Linked DNA regions of Homo sapiens. The protein of the gene in region 1 interacts with the protein of each later gene in a biochemical or structural test. Each region holds a gene or a part of one and is shown in the gene's direction. Other genes may lie near its edges.

Evidence for each region.
Region 2: of the proteins of GRK5 (region 1) and RHO, one has a biochemical effect on the other in vitro, tested with the Homo sapiens proteins (one study listed by BioGRID).

Annotation. Positions count from the first base shown.
Region 1 is NC_000010.11:119,457,890-119,460,381, forward strand, and holds the end of GRK5 (G protein-coupled receptor kinase 5), read left to right. Parts: 3' UTR 1-1,856; downstream 1,857-2,492. UniProt on the Homo sapiens protein: Serine/threonine kinase that phosphorylates preferentially the activated forms of a variety of G-protein-coupled receptors (GPCRs).
Region 2 is NC_000003.12:129,531,583-129,535,336, forward strand, and holds part of RHO (rhodopsin), read left to right. Parts: intron 1-668; coding exon 669-834; intron 835-950; coding exon 951-1,190; intron 1,191-2,025; coding exon 2,026-2,136; 3' UTR 2,137-3,754. UniProt on the Homo sapiens protein: Photoreceptor required for image-forming vision at low light intensity. Required for photoreceptor cell viability after birth.

The DNA of each region.
Region 1 (2,492 bases):
CCCCATGTTGCCCAGGCTGGCCTCGAATTCCTGAGCCCAAGCTATCCTCCTGCCTCAGCCTCCCAAAGTGCTGAGGTTATAGGTGTGAGCCACTGTCCCTGGCCTATACGGTCATTTTTTAAAAGATATTTTAAAATTAAAAGCAAACAACACTGTCCACCCATCTACCTGTCCAGGATAAGGCATATTTGGACGGTGAACGGATTTACTCTCGTTCATGCATTTGAGCGCTTCACAGAAGAGTCTTTCTTGCTCCAGGCATGACATTTTTTTTCACCAGACGTTCACTGACTTCGTGACTTTGAGGTGAGACATGGGATCTCTCAGAAGCGTCTCTGCATCTGCATTTCAGGAGATGAGCTGCTGTCCCTGGTGGACAGAGGCGGTCTCTGCCATGGTCACCATGATGCCCTACAAGTGTTTATTGAGTCCCCTGGGGGGCACCCAGAATACCACCCAAAATAGCAAGAAGACCCGGTCCCCGCCTTGCGGACGATGCACTCACATGCCACAGCAACCCATTCTCGCCTCTTCCTTGGCCGGGAACCCGGGGCTCTAGGGCTGCTCGCTGCTGCTGTGGCCTGCGCAGCCACGGGAGGCTTCCTGAAAGGCATTGCTCGGAGGGGCGGGGGCGGGGAGGCCTAGCCTGCCCCACAGACACAGCTGTGAGGCCTGGGTCATACACATACCAGCAAGCAGCTGCCGAGACAAATGGTGGTGGGAAGTCCTGGGAACACACACAGCCTTTGCATTGACAGCACAAGTAGGATCAGAGCCCAGGTGAGCCCCTGAGGATACCGAGGCCTTCCCTCCCTGAGGCCCGCAAGTCTCCATGCGTCTCCCGGGAGCCTGGCCCCGCTGCAGAAATCCCTTCTCTTCCTCCACACCCTGTCCTTTCCCCAAAGGCTCGTGTTATCAGTTCCAGCTACCCATCGACTTTCCCACCGAGCCGCTGCCCTCAAAACGGAGGGGGCACCGCAGCCTCCTTGAGCCTGGCATCCCAGGCCTTGCCAAAGGGGACGGTGGCTTCCTGGATAATTGGAAATCTCTGAGAAGAAGAGGAAACACCTGAGTGACACTCAGCTGTCCTCTGGGGTCCCCTGGTGTGCATGCACGTCCTCCTGAATACCTGTACTTCCAAGAGGTGGTCTCCTGTTTTCATAACCCAACACTCTGAGATAGGATCTTCCAACTTTTTAGCCCCGGCTGTGGAAAGATAGTGAGTATGAAGTCTTTGTGCATTTGGAAGTGACATCGCTGTGTGGATTATGAATACAGAGAGCTGCCATCTTCCTGATCACAATAGACCACGATTGCAAAGCCTCCTCTCCCAGAGACCCCTTCTGCGCCTGCCCTCCCCACCCACCACCCAGCTGTTGAAGCTCAGCGTGTGCAAGTCAGACCCTGCACAGGCCGGGGGTGTCTCACCTGGCCTAAACGTAAAGGCTTGTGCCGGAGACAGTGATTGAAAACATTTGAAAAGCCAGCTCTCCCTGGCAGAGAAAGACACTTCCCCCCCAAAGTGGAATTTAGATGTCTTTCCCTAGTCCATCAAGAAGTCATTTTTGTAACAGTCCCTAAGCGAGTGTTCTCAATTAGAAGAGTTTAGTGGCTTTTGGTGTTGTTAAAATAATAAGAATCCTTCTAGCATCCAAAGCTTTCTAATTTTTTTCAGGGAGATTTGGACATTAATGAATGGAAACTTCCACAGTGGCGGTCACTCCTGAAGGCAGCGGCTTCTGTTCTCCCGCTGCTGTAACTCTGTGTGTTCCGTCTATCGCGTCACAGTGCCGCTGGATCTAGATGGAGCCACTGTTGTTGTTTTTAAAAGAGAAATAAATTCCTTAATGGAAGTAGCATGGCATCGGCATCTCTCTCCTGCTGCTGAGCTCTTGTTCTGTTTCTTCTGCATACGACAGCTGTCCCCAAGATGCCTGTGGCCTTTGGGCTAACCCTTTCCTAAGGTTGACAGTGGAACCCACCCAAACCCGGCCCCCACACTGACCACCCCCTGAACTGCCCACAGATGGCCCAGCTCCAGTGGGCGGGGCCCAAGAAAACCTGAATTCTTACCAGGCCGCCGGCTTCTGATCTCAAACCCAGCAGATGGTTCTAGAAGTGCTCTGGCCACTTGGCACCAAGGAGGAGCTGGGTGACAAGGGCTCGAGCCAGTGCCAGCACCATGACACCAAACGGCGCATTTGCAGGTCCCACCTGCCCGGTCTTATACAGAAGAGGCGGGCTCTGCAGAGGGAGCCTTTCTGGCTGTCCAGGCTTCGCCATGCCAGGCACATGCTGGAACGTGGGGTAGCCAGTGAGGCACAGCGGCCCTTGCACCTCAGAACTGGGATTCCCGATCTGGGACCCAAGACCTCTTCTGTCTCCCTCGACCTGCTTGCCTTAGCTGTTAGAATGAGCAGGGCTTACTCTGAGATGTTTGTTTTAAAAATAAAGGTAAAAATAAATTTTAAAAATAAATAAATAAATAGAAT
Region 2 (3,754 bases), on another chromosome or scaffold:
ACTTCCCTTTCCTCCTCAGTCTTGCTAGGGTCCATTTCTTACCCCTTGCTGAATTTGAGCCCACCCCCTGGACTTTTTCCCCATCTTCTCCAATCTGGCCTAGTTCTATCCTCTGGAAGCAGAGCCGCTGGACGCTCTGGGTTTCCTGAGGCCCGTCCACTGTCACCAATATCAGGAACCATTGCCACGTCCTAATGACGTGCGCTGGAAGCCTCTAGTTTCCAGAAGCTGCACAAAGATCCCTTAGATACTCTGTGTGTCCATCTTTGGCCTGGAAAATACTCTCACCCTGGGGCTAGGAAGACCTCGGTTTGTACAAACTTCCTCAAATGCAGAGCCTGAGGGCTCTCCCCACCTCCTCACCAACCCTCTGCGTGGCATAGCCCTAGCCTCAGCGGGCAGTGGATGCTGGGGCTGGGCATGCAGGGAGAGGCTGGGTGGTGTCATCTGGTAACGCAGCCACCAAACAATGAAGCGACACTGATTCCACAAGGTGCATCTGCATCCCCATCTGATCCATTCCATCCTGTCACCCAGCCATGCAGACGTTTATGATCCCCTTTTCCAGGGAGGGAATGTGAAGCCCCAGAAAGGGCCAGCGCTCGGCAGCCACCTTGGCTGTTCCCAAGTCCCTCACAGGCAGGGTCTCCCTACCTGCCTGTCCTCAGGTACATCCCCGAGGGCCTGCAGTGCTCGTGTGGAATCGACTACTACACGCTCAAGCCGGAGGTCAACAACGAGTCTTTTGTCATCTACATGTTCGTGGTCCACTTCACCATCCCCATGATTATCATCTTTTTCTGCTATGGGCAGCTCGTCTTCACCGTCAAGGAGGTACGGGCCGGGGGGTGGGCGGCCTCACGGCTCTGAGGGTCCAGCCCCCAGCATGCATCTGCGGCTCCTGCTCCCTGGAGGAGCCATGGTCTGGACCCGGGTCCCGTGTCCTGCAGGCCGCTGCCCAGCAGCAGGAGTCAGCCACCACACAGAAGGCAGAGAAGGAGGTCACCCGCATGGTCATCATCATGGTCATCGCTTTCCTGATCTGCTGGGTGCCCTACGCCAGCGTGGCATTCTACATCTTCACCCACCAGGGCTCCAACTTCGGTCCCATCTTCATGACCATCCCAGCGTTCTTTGCCAAGAGCGCCGCCATCTACAACCCTGTCATCTATATCATGATGAACAAGCAGGTGCCTACTGCGGGTGGGAGGGCCCCAGTGCCCCAGGCCACAGGCGCTGCCTGCCAAGGACAAGCTACTTCCCAGGGCAGGGGAGGGGGCTCCATCAGGGTTACTGGCAGCAGTCTTGGGTCAGCAGTCCCAATGGGGAGTGTGTGAGAAATGCAGATTCCTGGCCCCACTCAGAACTGCTGAATCTCAGGGTGGGCCCAGGAACCTGCATTTCCAGCAAGCCCTCCACAGGTGGCTCAGATGCTCACTCAGGTGGGAGAAGCTCCAGTCAGCTAGTTCTGGAAGCCCAATGTCAAAGTCAGAAGGACCCAAGTCGGGAATGGGATGGGCCAGTCTCCATAAAGCTGAATAAGGAGCTAAAAAGTCTTATTCTGAGGGGTAAAGGGGTAAAGGGTTCCTCGGAGAGGTACCTCCGAGGGGTAAACAGTTGGGTAAACAGTCTCTGAAGTCAGCTCTGCCATTTTCTAGCTGTATGGCCCTGGGCAAGTCAATTTCCTTCTCTGTGCTTTGGTTTCCTCATCCATAGAAAGGTAGAAAGGGCAAAACACCAAACTCTTGGATTACAAGAGATAATTTACAGAACACCCTTGGCACACAGAGGGCACCATGAAATGTCACGGGTGACACAGCCCCCTTGTGCTCAGTCCCTGGCATCTCTAGGGGTGAGGAGCGTCTGCCTAGCAGGTTCCCTCCAGGAAGCTGGATTTGAGTGGATGGGGCGCTGGAATCGTGAGGGGCAGAAGCAGGCAAAGGGTCGGGGCGAACCTCACTAACGTGCCAGTTCCAAGCACACTGTGGGCAGCCCTGGCCCTGACTCAAGCCTCTTGCCTTCCAGTTCCGGAACTGCATGCTCACCACCATCTGCTGCGGCAAGAACCCACTGGGTGACGATGAGGCCTCTGCTACCGTGTCCAAGACGGAGACGAGCCAGGTGGCCCCGGCCTAAGACCTGCCTAGGACTCTGTGGCCGACTATAGGCGTCTCCCATCCCCTACACCTTCCCCCAGCCACAGCCATCCCACCAGGAGCAGCGCCTGTGCAGAATGAACGAAGTCACATAGGCTCCTTAATTTTTTTTTTTTTTTTAAGAAATAATTAATGAGGCTCCTCACTCACCTGGGACAGCCTGAGAAGGGACATCCACCAAGACCTACTGATCTGGAGTCCCACGTTCCCCAAGGCCAGCGGGATGTGTGCCCCTCCTCCTCCCAACTCATCTTTCAGGAACACGAGGATTCTTGCTTTCTGGAAAAGTGTCCCAGCTTAGGGATAAGTGTCTAGCACAGAATGGGGCACACAGTAGGTGCTTAATAAATGCTGGATGGATGCAGGAAGGAATGGAGGAATGAATGGGAAGGGAGAACATATCTATCCTCTCAGACCCTCGCAGCAGCAGCAACTCATACTTGGCTAATGATATGGAGCAGTTGTTTTTCCCTCCCTGGGCCTCACTTTCTTCTCCTATAAAATGGAAATCCCAGATCCCTGGTCCTGCCGACACGCAGCTACTGAGAAGACCAAAAGAGGTGTGTGTGTGTCTATGTGTGTGTTTCAGCACTTTGTAAATAGCAAGAAGCTGTACAGATTCTAGTTAATGTTGTGAATAACATCAATTAATGTAACTAGTTAATTACTATGATTATCACCTCCTGATAGTGAACATTTTGAGATTGGGCATTCAGATGATGGGGTTTCACCCAACCTTGGGGCAGGTTTTTAAAAATTAGCTAGGCATCAAGGCCAGACCAGGGCTGGGGGTTGGGCTGTAGGCAGGGACAGTCACAGGAATGCAGAATGCAGTCATCAGACCTGAAAAAACAACACTGGGGGAGGGGGACGGTGAAGGCCAAGTTCCCAATGAGGGTGAGATTGGGCCTGGGGTCTCACCCCTAGTGTGGGGCCCCAGGTCCCGTGCCTCCCCTTCCCAATGTGGCCTATGGAGAGACAGGCCTTTCTCTCAGCCTCTGGAAGCCACCTGCTCTTTTGCTCTAGCACCTGGGTCCCAGCATCTAGAGCATGGAGCCTCTAGAAGCCATGCTCACCCGCCCACATTTAATTAACAGCTGAGTCCCTGATGTCATCCTTATCTCGAAGAGCTTAGAAACAAAGAGTGGGAAATTCCACTGGGCCTACCTTCCTTGGGGATGTTCATGGGCCCCAGTTTCCAGTTTCCCTTGCCAGACAAGCCCATCTTCAGCAGTTGCTAGTCCATTCTCCATTCTGGAGAATCTGCTCCAAAAAGCTGGCCACATCTCTGAGGTGTCAGAATTAAGCTGCCTCAGTAACTGCTCCCCCTTCTCCATATAAGCAAAGCCAGAAGCTCTAGCTTTACCCAGCTCTGCCTGGAGACTAAGGCAAATTGGGCCATTAAAAGCTCAGCTCCTATGTTGGTATTAACGGTGGTGGGTTTTGTTGCTTTCACACTCTATCCACAGGATAGATTGAAACTGCCAGCTTCCACCTGATCCCTGACCCTGGGATGGCTGGATTGAGCAATGAGCAGAGCCAAGCAGCACAGAGTCCCCTGGGGCTAGAGGTGGAGGAGGCAGTCCTGGGAATGGGAA